Regions from separate parts of the Homo sapiens genome. Here regions 1 and 2 are each linked to region 3. The links come from fine-mapping of genetic effects on gene expression. A gene starts in region 3. Each other region holds a variant in brackets. All regions are shown on one strand. Distances are between the middles of the regions.

The links. PIP is the estimated chance that this variant, and not a neighbour inherited with it, causes the effect. A credible set is the group of variants that fine-mapping cannot tell apart.
Region 1: its variant is the best candidate, but not a certain one, in a credible set for the expression of CYP2S1 in blood mononuclear cells (TOPMed, PIP 0.80).
Region 2: its variant is the best candidate, but not a certain one, in a credible set for the expression of CYP2S1 in whole blood (INTERVAL, PIP 0.89).

Annotation. Positions count from the first base shown.
Region 1 is chr19:41,238,787-41,244,420 of GRCh38, forward strand. It overlaps AXL (AXL receptor tyrosine kinase), which reads left to right. Exons shown (of 20, transcript NM_021913.5): 9 at 378-528; 10 at 908-934; 11 at 4,097-4,229; 12 at 4,830-4,921. It also overlaps the pseudogene TRK-TTT10-1. Among named protein-coding and RNA genes, the nearest start is that of AXL, 22 kb to the left of the region's middle. The variant T/C (reference allele first, on the strand shown) is at 3,400.
Region 2 is chr19:41,217,487-41,223,120 of GRCh38, forward strand. AXL (AXL receptor tyrosine kinase) reads left to right here and starts at 1,737. Exons shown (of 20, transcript NM_021913.5): 1 at 1,737-1,991; 2 at 3,150-3,372; 3 at 3,660-3,760; 4 at 4,394-4,570. The coding sequence starts at 1,907. RefSeq lists enhancers at 878-1,702, 3,953-4,890 and a silencer at 1,311-1,450. The variant G/C (reference allele first, on the strand shown) is at 2,399.
Region 3 is chr19:41,190,313-41,195,848 of GRCh38, forward strand. It overlaps CYP2S1 (cytochrome P450 family 2 subfamily S member 1), which reads left to right and starts at 2,907. Exons shown (of 9, transcript NM_030622.8): 1 at 2,907-3,129; 2 at 4,232-4,397. The coding sequence starts at 2,953. It overlaps LOC124904790, which reads right to left and starts at 2,740. Exons shown (of 3, transcript XM_047439802.1): 1 at 2,668-2,740. The coding sequence starts at 2,740. It also overlaps the pseudogene RN7SL718P. RefSeq lists enhancers at 2,433-2,933, 4,244-4,756 and a silencer at 2,846-2,935.

The DNA.
Region 1 (5,634 bases), 49 kb after region 3:
GGCATGGGGAATGGCTGTTTTTGAACCACTGCAAAAGCATTTCAGCAGACTCATATTTACTATATAACGATTTTACAGCAGATAGTTATATAGCACCTTGGGGAAGGGGTACCTTTTCCTGATTTTCACAAAGGCACTCCTATCAGGGCTAGCAATACCCTGACATAGGGAGGGAGGATGGAAAGGGAAGCTAGAAGGGGATGGAGGGATACAGGTTAAAGGATGAGGATGAGAGATGAAGGGGAGGACGAGGAAGGATGAGGAGTTGGAGGATGGGGAGAGCGTTTTGAGAAAGAGATGGGGCATTGAGCCCGAGAGTGAAGGCTTAACAGCTGGGGGGTAAGGTTCTACCCTGATGCCACTTCTGGACCTCCTAGGTGCTAATGGACATAGGGCTAAGGCAAGAGGTGACCCTGGAGCTGCAGGGGGACGGGTCTGTGTCCAATCTGACAGTGTGTGTGGCAGCCTACACTGCTGCTGGGGATGGACCCTGGAGCCTCCCAGTACCCCTGGAGGCCTGGCGCCCAGGTAAGTCCAAAGCCATGCCCAACCTGCTTCAACCCTGTCTCTCCCTGACAGCCCTGACTTACTCCTTGTACCTTTCAGTGTTACCGCAACTTAGGCCCTGTTCCTACCCTGAGCCTTACTGAGAGCTGCCCTCACTCCCTTACCCATGCCAACCCCTCACTCCCTTACCTGTGCCACGGCCTCACTCCTTTACCCGTGCCACACCCTCACTCCCTTACCCGTGCCACACCCTCACTCCCTTACCCGTGCCAAACCTTCACTCCCTTACTCGTGCCACACCCTCACTCCCTTACCCGTGCCACACCCTTACTCCCTTACCCGTGCCACGCCAGTCTTGTCCTCTCTGAGCACATCTCCTCTCTGTCCTTTCTTCTCACAGGGCAAGCACAGCCAGTCCACCAGCTGGGTAAGGGCTTCCACACCCCATCTCCTCCTTCCCTACCCTCAACACCTAGTGGGGGCACTGTCACCATGCATACTCATTGCACATCCCTTTCATGTTTCTCTAACTCATCACTCTAACCTACTTCTTGAGTTTGTGTGGTCCTTGATGGAGGTGCCTATAATGGCCTAGCATAGCACATTGTAGGTATTCAGGCAATGACAGATGAGTGGGTGGATGGATGAACAAATAGATGGATGGATGGATGGATAGATATATGGAGGGTGGATGGGTGGGTGGGTCAATGGATGAATAGAGGATGGATAGGCGGGTGAACAGATAAATGACTGGATGTCGAGTGGATAAATGGATGGGTAGATGGATGGGTGGATGGATGGATGGGTGGATATATGGAGAATGGATGGGTGTGTGGGCCAATGGATGAATAGAGGGTGGATAGGTGGGTGAACAGATAAATGACTGGATGGTGAGTGGATAAATGGATGGGTAGATGGATGGGTGGATGGATGGGTGGGTGGATATATGGAGGGTGGATGGATGGATGGTTGGATATATGGAGGGTGGATGGGTGGGTGGGTCAATGGATTAATAGATGGGTGGATAGGTGGATGAACAAAAGATGACTGGGTGGTGAGTGGATATATGGATGGGTAGATGGGTGGATGGATGGATGGATGGATGGATGAATGGATGGTTGGATAAATGGATGGATGGACAGATGGATGGATTTGTGAGTGGATGAATGGATGGGTAGAAAGGTGGATGGATGGATGAATGAGGTATCCTCCTCACATCCATCCCTCTCAAATATTTCTCTAACAATTCTCAAACATTCCTCCTACACCCATTGTCCCCTCTGGGCACTATTATGGTTCACTCTTGTAACTCAACCCACTAGCCTTCAATACTCCTCACATCCCTTCCTACATTTCTTCACATACGCTTTCCACGCTTATTCCACCCTCCTTTCACATATATCCCATTATAATCCGTTCCTCCCACATGACCCCAAAGGCCCATTGCACAACACACTTCTCATTCACAAACTCTGCACACCTTGTATGCACTTACCATACCTTCCACATTGCAAACACTGAAAAACATTGTCCACAACTTTCCCACACCCGATTCTCCTTGCATGCTTACTGCACACTCCATAGACATCATTCCCTCACCCTTCACTAATCCCAACCCATCTCACTCTGCACACTCACCCTGAACCCCTTGCATACTCAGCACATAATGATCTTTATTTCTTACACACTCCATTCCACCCCTGCCCTTTTTACACCCCCTTTCTGTGCACCCCATACTTCTCATCTGCCCTTCTAACATCTTTTGCATGCTCACTGCACACTTCTCTCACACTGCAATTACATCCTTAAAATTCCTTGCTCACTCCTTGTATCTAAGACTTCACGAATACTCTTCCCACTTCACACACCCCCAACTTTTCCAGCAGCCATCCAACCCTGTATATGCTTACCATGCCCCTTTGGATATTTATTTCACCCTCATTCCTGGCTTTATGGAAACCATTGTGGCCGGGTGCAATGGCTCACGCCTGTAATCCCAGTACTTTGGGAGGCCTGAGACAGGTGGATCACCTGAGGTCAGGAGTTCAAGACCAGCCTGGCCAACATTGGCGAAAACCCATCTCTACTAAAAATACAAAAATTAGCTGGGCCTGGTGGTGCGAGCCTGTAATCCCAGCTGCTCGGGAGGCTGAGGCACAAGAATTGCTTGAACCTGGGAGGCGGAGGTTACAGTGAGCCAAGATCATGCCACTATACTCCAGCCTGGGCAACACAGCAAGACTCTGTCTCAAAAAAAAAAAAAAAAGAAAGAAAGAAAGAAAAAAAGAAAGAAAAGAAAAAGAAAAGAAAAAAAAATTAGCCAGGTGGCACAGACCTGCAGTCCCAGCTACTCAGGAGACATGGTGAAACCCTGTCTCTACCAAAAAAAGAATACAAAAATTAGCTGGGCATGGTGGTGCACACCTGTAATCCCAGCTACTTAGAAGCTGAGGCAGGAGATTTGCTTGAAACTGGGAGGCAGAGGTTGCAATGAGCTGAGACCGGGCCACTGCACTCCAGCCTGGGTGAAAGAGTGAGACCCTGTCTCAAAAAACAAACAAACAAAAAAAGAGACAAAGAAAACCCTTTTGTAGTCATTGCATTCTCTTCAAAAGATGTTCCTTAGTCCGCCCTCCTTGCACACGCTTCATGCACCATCCTACACTGCAAGGATCTTCTTCCCCACTCACCTGCTTATCTACACTCTAGTCCACCCTTCTTGCACAATCATCACATTTCTCACACTAACCTATGCTGCTTGAGATTTCTCCACACCCATCTCATGTTCATCTAGCCCTCTTGGCACACTCATAACGCGTTCCACACATCTCTCCCTCCCATTCCACACTCACTGCACACTCCTCAAATATCCATTCCACTCTTCTGTTTTTT[T/C]GGATCTTGGTGGCATAATATTTGGTAGCTTAAAGTAAGGAAAACTGCAAACGCCCAAACAGAGACTTGAACCCTGAACCCTCAGGTTAAAAGTCTGATGCTCTACCACCTGAACTATCCTGGCACTCTCTTTTTTTTTTTTTTTTTTTTTTTTTTGAGATGGAGTCTTGCTCTGTCACCCAGGATGGAGTGCAGTGGCCCAGTCTCGGCTCACTGAAACCTCCACCTCCCAGGTTCAAGCAATTCTCCTGCCTCAGCTCCCGAGTAGCTGGGATTGCAGGTGTGCACCACCACCCCAGCTAATTTTTGTATATATTTTGTTTAAGTAGAGACAGGGTTTCATCATGTCGGCCGGGCTGGTCTTGAACTCCTTGCCTCAAGTAACCCACCCGCCTTGGCCTCCCAAAGTGCTGGGATAACAGGCATGAGCCACCACACCTGGCCTCCATCCCACTCTTAACTCACCCATCCTACAACTTTCACACACTTCTGCTTTAACCTGCACTTGTATCACATCCATTGCATGCCCTGTCCAGCCCAGCCCATTCAGATATGTGAATGCATCCATCACACACCTCATCAAGTATGTGCACATCTTTGCCGAGGCCTTCTGCCTCCCTCCCACATCACCCCTTTGGGTCCCAGAGAGCTGGATCCAAGGCTTCATCCATGACCTGTTCCTCATACCCCCTGATAGTGAAGGAACCTTCAACTCCTGCCTTCTCGTGGCCCTGGTGGTATGTACTGCTAGGAGCAGTCGTGGCCGCTGCCTGTGTCCTCATCTTGGCTCTCTTCCTTGTCCACCGGCGAAAGAAGGAGACCCGTTATGGGTGAGTTGGAACCACATGGGGAGGCTGTGTGGCCTGGGATGGAGAGGCTGGAGGCAGGGAGGCCAGTGAGGAGGCTGGTGCAGGAGGAGTGATGACTAAGAATCAGAATGAGGGCAAGGGAAGCCAGGCGTGGTGGCTCACGCCTGTAATCCCAGCACTTTGGGAGGCTGAAGCAGGTGGATCACTTGAGGTCAGGAGTTTGAGACCAGCCTGGCCAACATGGCGAAACCCTGTCTCTACTGAAAAATGCAAAAATTAGCGGGAAGTGTAGGCACACGCCTGTGGTCCCAGCTACTTGGGAGGCTGAGGCACGATAATCACTTGAACCCGGGAGATGGAGGCTACAGTGAGCTGAGATCGCATCACTGCACTCCAGCCTGGGTGACAGAGTGAGATCCTGTTTTCAAAAAAAAGAATGAGGGCAAGGGGGTGTGTGGAATGAATGGAAGGCAGAAGGTAGCTGCCCAAGGCATGCTCAGCAAATGTTAGCACAGAGGGCAGGCAGGGCTTGAGGCTGAGATGGTGCTTGCTCAACTGCTGGTTGAGTAGGGGGTTCCACATGGTTTTTCCCTGCCCTCACCTACTCCCCCTCCCCCCCAGAGAAGTGTTTGAACCAACAGTGGAAAGAGGTGAACTGGTAGTCAGGTACCGCGTGCGCAAGTCCTACAGTCGTCGGACCACTGAAGCTACCTGTAAGTGAACCCTATGCCCCACTGCCCTGGCCTGGATCTAAAGGCTGTAGAGAATCTGGCCTGCTGGGCTTCTGTACATGTGTGAGCCAAAAGTTTCTAAAGGCCTTGGGATACTAGAATGTCAGAACCACAGACCCTAGAAATAACAGATTTGTGGAACCACAAAGAACTTTCAAGGAATAGAATCTTAGACACAGTAAATCTTAGAAACACCAAGGCTGGGTGTGGTGGCTCATGCCTGTAATCCTAGCGCTTCGGGGGGCCGAGGTGGGAGGATCACTTGAGCCCAGGAGTTCGAGAACAGCCTGGGCAGCATGGTGAAACCCTGTCTCTACAAAAAAAAAAAATTAGCCAGGTATGGTGGTGTGCCCCTGTACTCCCTGCTACTCGGGAGGCTGAGGTAGGAGGATCACCTGAGCCCAGGGAGGTCAAGGCTGCAGTAAGCCGTGATCACACCACTGCACTCCAGCCTGGGTGACAGAGCAAGACCCTGTCTCAAAAAAGAAAAAAAAATAAAAGAAAGAAAAGAAACACCAAACCTCAGAGCCATTGGATCTTAGAAGATGTAATGATGATGATAATGATGAAGATAATGACAAGAAGAAAATGATGATGATGATGAAATAATGTTGAGATTAGATGGTGATGATGTGATAAAAATCACAGGCAACCCTAGCACTACCTATGTGGCAGGCTCTGTTCTAAGCATTCTA
Region 2 (5,634 bases), 27 kb after region 3:
AATACAAAAATTAACCTGGCATGGTGGTGCACACCTGTAATCCCAGCAACTCAGGAAGCTGAGGTGGGAGGATCACTTGAACCCAGGAGATGGAGGTTGCAGTGAGCCGAGATCGAGCCATTGCACTCCAGCCTGGGCAACAAAGCAAGACTGGGTCTCAAAAAAAAAAAAAAAAAAAAAGACACAGCCCAGGGAGACAACGGTGAAGGGCCCTAAGTGGCCAGTGACAAGGAGCTGGGAGCTTGCCCTGAGGGCAGCAGGAGGCCATGGGCAAGCAGAGAAGGGACAGGGTAGGATTTGACTTTCAGAAACAGTCCTCTGGTTGCTAAATGGGAGAAAGGAGTGACAGTAGAGGCAGGAGAAGGCAGGATCAGACGGGGGTGCTGGGAAGGGGCAGGTAGAAGAGACATCAGGAGGCCAAACAGATAGGACTTTATGATGCACCGTAGGTATACCAGTACCCAAACACAGGTGGCCAAGAGCAGAGGGATAGACGCCCAGCCTCCTCCTCACAGACATCCAGGCATGCAGAGCCCTCCACGTGCCAAACACACAGGGCCGAGGAATGGAAGTGCAGCAGAGCCGATACGCAGGCAGCAGATCTGCAATAACCAGGACACACAGTCCCACCAGAAGGAGAGAGCAGTGGAATGATCAGGGCTCACTGCAGCCTCGATCTCTTGGACTCAAGCGTTCCTCTCACTCCAGCCTCCCTAGTAGCTGGGACCACAGGCACACGCCATGATACCTGGTTAAGTTTTAATTTTTAAACTTCTTGTAGAGATGGGGGTCTCAGTGCATTGACCAGTCTGGTCTCGAACTCCTGGGCTCAAGCGATCCTCCCACCTTGGCCTCCCAAAGTGCTGGGATTACAGGAGTGAGTTACTGTGCCCGGCCAACAACTATTCTTATTCCCATTTTACAGATGGACAAACTGAGGCTCAGGAGGCCAGTCACTTGCCTGTAGCCCACAGTTAGTGGTAGCACTGGGATTCCAACTTGGGTCCCCTTCATGTCGCCTGTATTTGGTGTCCCATTTAGGCGTCCATGCAGGTTTTGGCGTGTCTGAAGATCTGTGTCTCCCCAAGTAAGTGTCCCCCATGGATGCCCACCCAGCCGTGTCCTCCTGTCTCTGAGGTTTCTCCAGGAATCGAGCTCCTGGCCTGGCTTGTCTGAGTGTGTCTGTGGGCCAGTAGCATGCCCCTGCCCGTCTGGGTCCCTCTGCGTGTCTCTGCTTGTCCTAGCCTGTGTGTGTCAGTGACGTCTAAGAGTGTGTGTGCGTGCGTGCGTGCGTGCGTGTGTGTGTGTGTGTGTGTGTCCTTGTCCGAGGAGCCGAGAGAGTGAGGGGGAATGAAGGGCCAAGGAGGCCTGGCTGGGGCTGGGCTGGGGGTGGAGGCGGGGAGAGGGGCGTCACGGCCTGAGCTGAGAGGGGAGTGGAGTTCTGGAGGAATGTTTACCAGACACAGAGCCCAGAGGGACAGCGCCCAGAGCCCGGATAGAGAGACACGGCCTCACTGGCTCAGGACAGGGGGCACAGCCACCAGGGTCCCCTTCCCCCTCCTCAGCTCCCTCCCTGGCCCCTTTAAGAAAGAGCTGATCCTCTCCTCTCTTGAGTTAACCCCTGATTGTCCAGGTGGCCCCTGGGCTCTGGCCCTGGTGGGCGGAGGCAAAGGGGGAGCCAGGGGCGGAGAAAGGGTTGCCCAAGTCTGGGAGTGAGGGAAGGAGGCAGGGGTGCTGAGAAGGCGGCTGCTGGGCAGAGCCGGTGGCAAGGGCCTCCCCTGCCGCTGTGCCAGGCAGGCAGTGCCAAATCCGGGGAGCCTGGAGCTGGGGGGAGGGCCGGGGACAGCCCGGCCCTGCCCCCTCCCCCGCTGGGAGCCCAACAACTTCTGAGGAAAGTTTGGCACCCATGGCGTGGCGGTGCCCCAGGATGGGCAGGGTCCCGCTGGCCTGGTGCTTGGCGCTGTGCGGCTGGGCGTGCATGGCCCCCAGGGGTGAGTGATGGGGGCTCCTTGGGGCAGGGATCCCCTCGGAGGGGCTGGGGCAGGGGTAGGAGGTGGGGGATGATGGCAGGTGTGGGGGGCCTGGGCTGGCTTAGGGAGTTTCCTTGGGACCACAGAAAAGGGACTTCAAGGGAGGGAGACACAGACTCAGAGACACCAAGTGCGGCAGAGGGAGAGAAAGACTGAGAGAGGAACTGAAGGGCAGGGGGGACAGAAGAGAGGACCCGGAGAGACAGACAGACAAGGAGAAGCTGAGGGCAGGGGTGGGGGCTGGACCTGAGAAGGGGGCCATGGGGAGAGGGGCTGAGCTGAGGGTCGCCAGGAAGGAAGAAATCTTTCCGAAGGGGCACCGAGTCAGGCAGTGGGATGAGGAGGGCTCTGGAGCCCTGGGGGAAAAC[G/C]CTTCTCCCTGCCAACACCACCCCCCTGACCCGCCACTTGTCCCTACCCCACCAGTCCACTCCATCTCTGGGGAGGAGGCTCTCACTTTGTCTCTCTGTCTCTGCCTCCAGCTCTGCTATCTCTGTGGGTCTCTGTTTCTCTCTCTTTCACAGTCTCTGCCTTTATCTCTCCCTGCTCTCTGAGTCTCTCTCTCTCTTCTCAGCCTCCCTCTGTGACTGTATCCCCCCTCCGCCCCCACCTTTTCTTCTCTCTTGAGGGCTGTTTCTTCATTTTTTCTGTCTTGCCTTGTATCTGTGCTCCTCTCTGTCTCATCTCCCCTGCCTTTCTCTGGCTTCTCCCTCCGCCACCACCCTTATCTCCCCCCACCACCACCCTTATCTCTCTCCCCCAACCCCTGATTCTTCCCCTCCATCCACCAGCACCAGCGCGACCTGTTAAGTCTCTAGAGACCTAAGAGAGGACGGAGGGGGCAGGGGCTGGCCCTGCCAGGCAGTGCAGGGCGTGGGAGGCTGCCAGATCCCGAGCCTCCTTCCCGACGGGATGGACGCTAGATCCCAGTCCCTTGGGAGGGCTCCCGTCCTCCTCTCAGAGCCTCCGCCCTCCACCCCACTCTGAGGTCACTCTGCAACTATGTCGGCCTAAGGGCCTGGCGGGGTCCTGGCCGCCGGTGGGCAGGCAAGGACAGGGTGGAACTGAGGGCCGGAAGGAGCTGGGGGGTTCCTAAGCTAACTCTTCCCATCTCCCCTCCAGGCACGCAGGCTGAAGAAAGTCCCTTCGTGGGCAACCCAGGGAATATCACAGGTGCCCGGGGACTCACGGGCACCCTTCGGTGTCAGCTCCAGGTTCAGGGAGAGCCCCCCGAGGTACATTGGCTTCGGGATGGACAGATCCTGGAGCTCGCGGACAGCACCCAGACCCAGGTGCCCCTGGGTGAGGATGAACAGGATGACTGGATAGTGGTCAGCCAGCTCAGGTGTGTGGCCACATCCCCGAATCCCACTCCCACCTCCGTCACACAGAGGGCAGAAAGCCCACCTGGGTGGGAACCCCAGTTTGACCACTTGTCAGCCGTGCGGCTTTGAGCATGTGATGGAACCTCTAGGTTTCGTTTTCCTCTTCTGCAAAATGAGTTAATAATAGGACATACTTCGTGGTTGTCATGAGCTTCCAGACTGGACACCCTCTTTCCGTTCTGACAGACCCCCTCCCAGTGTCCAGCTCTGACCCTGAACCTCTCTGTCTCTCCTCTTGCCCTGTCAGAATCACCTCCCTGCAGCTTTCCGACACGGGACAGTACCAGTGTTTGGTGTTTCTGGGACATCAGACCTTCGTGTCCCAGCCTGGCTATGTTGGGCTGGAGGGTGAGCTCTGGGGTCAGGGGTCCTGAGGGGTCAGAGGACATGTGGCGCTCATAGGTTGTGGGAAGTCAGGAATCCTGAGGGGTCAAGGTCAAAGGGTGCTGGAGGATTCAGGATGAACCTAGCGTCATACAGCCTAAGAATGTCAGAGTTTTGGGTGGTCAAGAAGCTGGGAGTCCATATAAGTTATGGTGCCAAGGCTGGGGGATTATATGTTCTGGGTGAAAAGACTTCTTGGGGGTAGTTGGATGTCCTAGGCATCAGACACCATCAGGTCACAGGAGGCCATTCTGGTCTTCAGATAAGGCGTCAGAGGCACGCAACGTACCCCTGTCCCCACGACCCCAGCGGTCTCTTTTTTCTCATCCATAGAATGAGATGAGGATGAGCTGTCAGACATTCTGGAAGAGAGACATGAGGAGCTCAGCTATCGTGGGGGGTCTGACATGGGAGGAATCAGATATTGGGGTCACGTGTGTGTTGGGTATGGCTCAGGTGCCCTCGGGGATCAGATAAGGCAAGTCAATGACCCTGCAGGGTGGGTTTGCTGCCCAAAGCCTACAGCATCCTAGTGGTGAGTCAGGCATCTTGGGGCCTCAGAGGGACCCCAGCCTCTACCACTGCCCACCCCGCTAGGCTTGCCTTACTTCCTGGAGGAGCCCGAAGACAGGACTGTGGCCGCCAACACCCCCTTCAACCTGAGCTGCCAAGCTCAGGGACCCCCAGAGCCCGTGGACCTACTCTGGCTCCAGGATGCTGTCCCCCTGGCCACGGCTCCAGGTCACGGCCCCCAGCGCAGCCTGCATGTTCCAGGTGAGTCCGGGGATGTGGGTCAGCTCCGAATAGGGGGCCGGGCAGGGCTGAAGTCAGGAGCAAGGGAACATTGCTACCTCTGCGTGAGTGTCTGACTGTCCTTCTGTCCCTCACTGTCTGTCTCTCTCGTTTCTCCCTCTGAGTCTGTCTCTGCCTCTCTGTCTCTACCTATCTTATTTCTCTCCGTATGCCTTTTTCTGTCTCTTTCTGTCTCTTGGTGTGTGTGTCTTTCTGTCTCTCTTTGTATGTGTCTCTCTCTCTGTCTCTCTGCTTCTCTCTCCCTCCATTCACCCCGGCCTCTCTCTGAATAGAATTCTTTGTCCTGGGTTTCCTCTGAGCTGTTCCATGGCTCGAGTGCGTGTGGGCCTGGTGCCCCTTTGTCAGCCCTTGACCCAAGCAGGGCACCGGAATCAACCGTGCCCTCCTCTCCTCCGCCTCCCTCCACAACCGGCCCACCTCCTGCCCTAACAAGCCTGCTGGCCTCAGTCAAAGGGAGGATGTCCAGCCCGGTCCCCACTGGGGAGATGGAACCCAAAGAAGAGAGAGCAGGAAGAAAGTAGGAGACAGAGGCTGGGCGTGGTGGCTCACGCCTGTAATCCCAGCACTTTGGGAGGCTGAGGCGGGCGGATCACGAGGTCAGGAGATCAAGACCATCCTGGCTAACACGGTGAAACCCCATCTCTACTAAAAATACAAAAAATTAGCCGGGCGTGGTGGCGGGCGCCTGTAGTCCCAGCTACTCGGGAGGCTGAGGCAGGAGAATGGCAGGAACCCGAGAGGCGGAGCTTGCAGTGAGCCGAGATTGCGCCACTGCACTCCAGCCTGGGCGACAGGGCGAGACTCCATCTCAAAAGAAAAAAAAAAAAAAAGAAAGTGGGAGACAGAGAGAGATAGAATGACATACACTGGAAGGGACAGGCCACAGTGACCCAAGATGAACATAGACAGGACAGAGAGGCCGGGCATGGTGGCTCACGCCTGTAATCCCAGCACTTTGGGAGGCTGAGGCAGGTGGATCACTTGAGGCTGGGAGTTCGAGACCAGCCTGGCCAACATGACAAAAC
Region 3 (5,536 bases):
GATACCTTTTACAGAGGTAAGGAAGGAGGTGAGAGAAAGTATTCCCAGATGGGGTGGGAAGCTGGTACAGCCCACTTTGCAGGAGGTGGGGGAATCGGGAATTCTTTTATATCCATGAAGTTTGAGATGTCTGTTAGCTCTCCCAGGGGTAGAACAGAGGGAGCAGATAGGCTCAAGGTTGGATTTGGAACGTCCTAGAAACCTTCCAGAACAAGGCAAAGGAGGAACTGAGAACTGGCATTTACTTCATAGCAAGAGCGTATGAGCCTCCCCACCCCTCCTCCTTTGGCTTCAGGGCACCCCTGGAATGTTAGAGGCTAGAATCAATGCTAAAGAAGACCACAGTCAAGGATTCCCCAGACTCCAGGGAGCACTCTGGCTATGCTCTTGAGAGAAAGGGCTCTGGACTAGAATACAAATTGCAAGATTGCAGGCCGGGGGCAGTGGCTCATGCCTGTAATCCCAGCACTGTGGGAGGCCGAGGTGGGTAAATTGCCTGAGGTCAGGAGGTCGAGACCAGCCTGGCCAACATGGTGAAACCCCAACTCTACTAAAAATACAAAAGTTAGCTGGGAGTGGTGGTGGGCGCTTGTAATCCCAGCTACTCAGGAGGCTGAGGCAGGAGAATCACATGAACCCAGGAGGCAGAGATTGCAGTGAGCCAAGATCGTGCCACTGCACTCCAGCCTGGGCAACAGAGCGAGACCCTGTCTCAAAAAAAGATTGTGAAAATTCTAAGAATCTAATTTTTTTTTTTTTTTTTTTTTTTTTGAGACGGAGTCTCGCTCTGTCGCCCAGGCTGGAGTGCAGTGGCGGGATCTCGGCTCACTGCAAGCTCCGCCTCCCGGGTTCACGCCATTCTCCTGCCTCAGCCTCCCAAGTAGCTGGGACTACAGGCGCCCGCCACTACGCCCGGCTAATTTTTTGTATTTTTAGTAGAGACGGGGTTTCACCATTTTAGCCAGGATGGTCTCGATCTCCTGACCTCGTGATCCGCCCGCCTCAGCCTCCCAAAGAATCTAATATTTTAAAACTCCAGCATATGCAACTCAAAGCTCATCTAATTATACACTTAAGAGTTATGTATTTCATTGTATATAAGATACCTTGAGGAACAAAAAGTATCTGTAAACAAATACTGAGCTCTAGCTACTGATATGCATGCTGATGTATTTGGGAGTGAAGTGTACTGGTATCTGCAACTGACTTTGAAATGCTTAAAAAAAAATCAATGGATAGGCAAAATGAACAGATATGTAATGAAAAAAGGGCCAGGCACAGTGGCTCATGCCTGTAATCCCAGCACTTTGGGAGGCTGAGGTGAGAAGATCACCTGAGGTCAGGAGTTTGAGACCAGCCTGGTCAACATGGCAAAAACCCCGTCTCTACTAAAAATACAAAAAATAGCCAGGCATGGTGGTGCACGCCTGTAATCGCAGCTACTTGAGAGGCTGAAGCAGGAGAATTGCTTGAACCCGGGAGGCAGAGGTTGCAATGAGCCAAGACTGTATGCTATTGCACTCCACTCTGGGCAACAGAGTGAGACTCTATCTCAAACAAAAAAAGAATAGATAGGTAACAAAGAAAGGATAATAAAATGGTGGAATCTGATGGGTATACAGGTGTTCACTGTATGTTTGAAATTTTAATATTTTTATAATAAAATACGAAATCAAAATGCAAAGCAAACAAAGTAACTGCCCTGCTGAAAACCCCTCCAGACAGCTTCCGTTTGCAATAGAAATAAAATGCAGTCTTTTCCAAGACCTTGCAAGATGGCCCCTGCAGACTTCATGAATCTTATCTCCTACATTCAATCTTTGAAAATATAACAAATATTTATTGAGTGCCTACTGTGTGTCAGGCACTGCACTATATGTTGGGGATACAGCAGTGAACCAAACCTACAATAATTCATGCACAAATGGTTCTAACATTCTTCCTTCTCAAGAAGCCCATTCCCCTGGCAGGCCTTCTCACTTCCTGAAATTGTTTTCATCTCATCTTCATCTGCATGTGGATATGAGCTCAGGAAGGCCAGAGCCCTTCTCTCCATCGCTCATAGCTGCACCCTCGGGTCTAGAACAAGGTCTTGTTTATAGTAAGACCTCAATAACAGTTAGTTGCAGAAATATTAGCTAACATCTATTTAGTGCTTGTTACATGTGCACCTGCGTCTGCTTTAAATGGTGTGCACAGATGTACTATTTAATCCTGAAAACTAGCCCCATTTTACAAGGCTAACAGAGGCACAGAGGAATTAGGCTGTGAATTCAAGCAGTCTGGCTTCAGCCATCACGGTCCTAACCGCTCTGCAAACTGCCTCTAAACGAATGAATGAATGACTCAATCATTCTAACTGGCCCAAGTCAAAATATTAACTCTGCCACTCAGCCAAGTTGACCTGGGGCCAACCGATTTATCTCCCTGGACTTCAGATTGTTTATCCTTAAAGGTCAAGTCCTTCCTCTCAGTTCGTGAAGATGTAAGATGCTGGAGAAAATTGACTCAAAGACACCCCATACACGCACGCACACAGGAACCCACATCCGAACAATGAGCGAGGTAGGAGCTGGGGAGAGTGGCGCGGGGTCACCGCCAGATGCGGGGTGTGGCAACCTCCAGGCGGCCAAAGTCTCTGACTTCCAGGTTCTTCTGTTTGCTTACTCCCTATCCGGGGGCCCAAGGCGCTGTCTCCGCCGCCCAAGCCCCGCGTAAACCTGGGTGACCTCGGAGACATCCGTTGGAGCATGAGTTCCCGACATCAGGCGGCGGCGGTGGTCCGGGAGAAACCCGGCGGCGGGGAGATAAGCCTGCCCAGGAGGCAGGGGGCTGGGCTAGCTGCCCCGCCCCGCGCCTGACTTCGTTGGGGAGGGAGACGCCCGGCTCCCGCCCCTAACTAGCCCAGCCGCGCGGAGCGCCTGGGAGAGGAGAAGGAGCCGACCTGCCGAGATGGAGGCGACCGGCACCTGGGCGCTGCTGCTGGCGCTGGCGCTGCTCCTGCTGCTGACGCTGGCGCTGTCCGGGACCAGGGCCCGAGGCCACCTGCCCCCCGGGCCCACGCCGCTACCACTGCTGGGAAACCTCCTGCAGCTACGGCCCGGGGCGCTGTATTCAGGGCTCATGCGGGTAAGGGGCTCTGGGGACGTCCTGGCTAGGGGTGGGAGGATTCCTGGGAGAGAAACCCGAGTGCCAGGGTGAGGGGCTTTTCGGGTATCCTAGGGAGGAGGCAGGGGCAGGGGTCCCAAGGCAAAGGGGCTGCTGCTGTCCTGGGGTTGGGGGCAGGAGCAGGTTGTCCAGGGCTGAGAAGGGGAGAGGTGCCCGGGAGAGAGGATCGTGGGGTGGGGGACCAGGGCTAGGAGGGGCAGAGACCTCTGCCTACAGAATCCTGGGAAGGTGATGGGCAGGGACCGAGGCTGAAAGAGACAGGAGTCCTCCAGCCGAGGAGAAGCTGATGCAGCTGGGCTTGTCCCAGAGGGAGAGGTAGCTGGAGCCATACAGGTGGGGCATGCTGAAGAGGGCACAAAGAAGAAAAGGGGGAGGCGTCCCTGCGGGGAGTTGGAGGCAGAGAAGAGGCTGGAGGGTTGCAGGCTCAGAGAGGGGGTCCCGCTGAAGGAATCTGCCAGCAGAGAATGCAGGATGGGAGGATGGGTGGAGCTCAGTTGGGAGTTCCTGGGACTGGGGAGGAAGGAGAGCAAGAAAGAAGGCAGAGGCAGCCCCAGCCTTAGGGGATAGCAGGTGGGAGTGGGCAGAGGCCTGAAGTTTCCCATTCAAAAGGATTCTGGGTGACTTCAAGGACGTAGAAAAAAGGGTGGGGTCTTGGGGGAGAGATGGGGCGGATACTCAGCAGTGTCTGCTCCAGAATTTCAGGGTTTTGTGGTGACTGAAAGGGGTGGCTGGATATTTGGGGGGCAGGGAGGGCCCTAAGGAATTAAGGGAGACCCAAACTGCTTCTGGATTGCCCAGCGTCAGAGGTTAGGGTTCAGCAGGAAGCAAGGGAACGACAGGAAGTTGGGGGATGCCACTGAAGGATGTACTGGGGGAGGAGGCCCGGGAGCCTAGTGCAAAAAGAGAACTGAGCCTCAGCTATTTCTGCTGGGATGGGGGCAGGTTCCTGGTAGAGGGCGTAGAAGCTAGACCCGGTGGCTCCTCAAGTGACAGGGGCCATGATGGAGACACCTTGGATCGAAGAGGTCACAGCACCCTCCTCTTTCTTCCTCCCTACCCCCAGCTGAGTAAGAAGTACGGACCGGTGTTCACCATCTACCTGGGACCCTGGCGGCCTGTGGTGGTCCTGGTTGGGCAGGAGGCTGTGCGGGAGGCCCTGGGAGGTCAGGCTGAGGAGTTCAGCGGCCGGGGAACCGTAGCGATGCTGGAAGGGACTTTTGATGGCCATGGTAAGTCAAGGGCTGCTAGGCCCTCCGCTCACAGCCTGCCACCACTTACTGGTGTGTGACCTTTGCACATGGCTTAGTCCCTCTGTTGCCTCATCTGTCAAATGGAGTGATAACAGTGCCCATCAGCCGGGTGCAGTGGCTAGTGCCTGAAATCCCAACACTTTGGGAGGCGGAGGTGGGTGGATCACTTGAGGTCAGGAGTTCGAGACCAGCCTGGCCAACATGGTGAAACCCTGTCTCTACTAAAAATATAAAAATTAGCTGGGCATGGTGGTGCGTACCTGTAATCCCAGATACTTGGGAGGTTGAGGCAGGAGAATCGCTTGAACCCGGGAGGCAGATGTTGCAGTGAACCAAGACTGTGCCACTGCACTCCAGTCTGGGCAACAGAGTGAGCCTCCATCTCAAACAAACAAACAAAAAGCAGTGCCCATCATGTAGGATTGAGTGATTGAGTGAGGACTGAGCCTTGTGCAAAGTGAGCACTCACTAATCACCAGGTTGTAGTATCAGTGATAACCATCAATGATCCAGGTAAAGCCCTGAGGGTTCAGAAAGATGCCGGAGCGCTTTCAAGGTGCTGGGGATTGGTGGGCAAGCCCTCGAATAATAGAAACAGTTCTCTGTATTACAACAGAAAGCAGGAGGCCCATGCTGGGTGCTGCCAGGAACTCAGTAGTAACTAAGACAGCACCGGTGCTGCTTCCCCAGCGCACCTAGGCCAGTGGGGAAACAGACTCACCACACAGTCCCAGCCCAGAGTGGTCAGGGCCAAGATGGGGAAGCACGGGGAGAAAGGTCAGGGTGGGATGGGGAGGGGTCAGGGCAAGAGGGGTCAGGGCCAGGCTGAGGGAAGCCCTGGGACTGTAGGAATTTAGAGGAGGTACCTGACCCGGCATGTTTGGTGAGGGAGCTTCAGGAAGTCTTCCTGGAAGAGAGGCTGTCGGAGCTGAGACTCATAAGATGAGTGGGGAGGGTGTTCCAGGCAGAAAGACCAGCACCTACAAAAGCATGACTTTGAGAGAAGCATTCATCCATTCAACTGATGAATTTTCAGACTGGGCACGCTGGCTCATGCCTGTAATCCCAGCACTTTGGAAGGCTGAATGGGGAGGATGACTTGAGCCTAGGCATTTGTG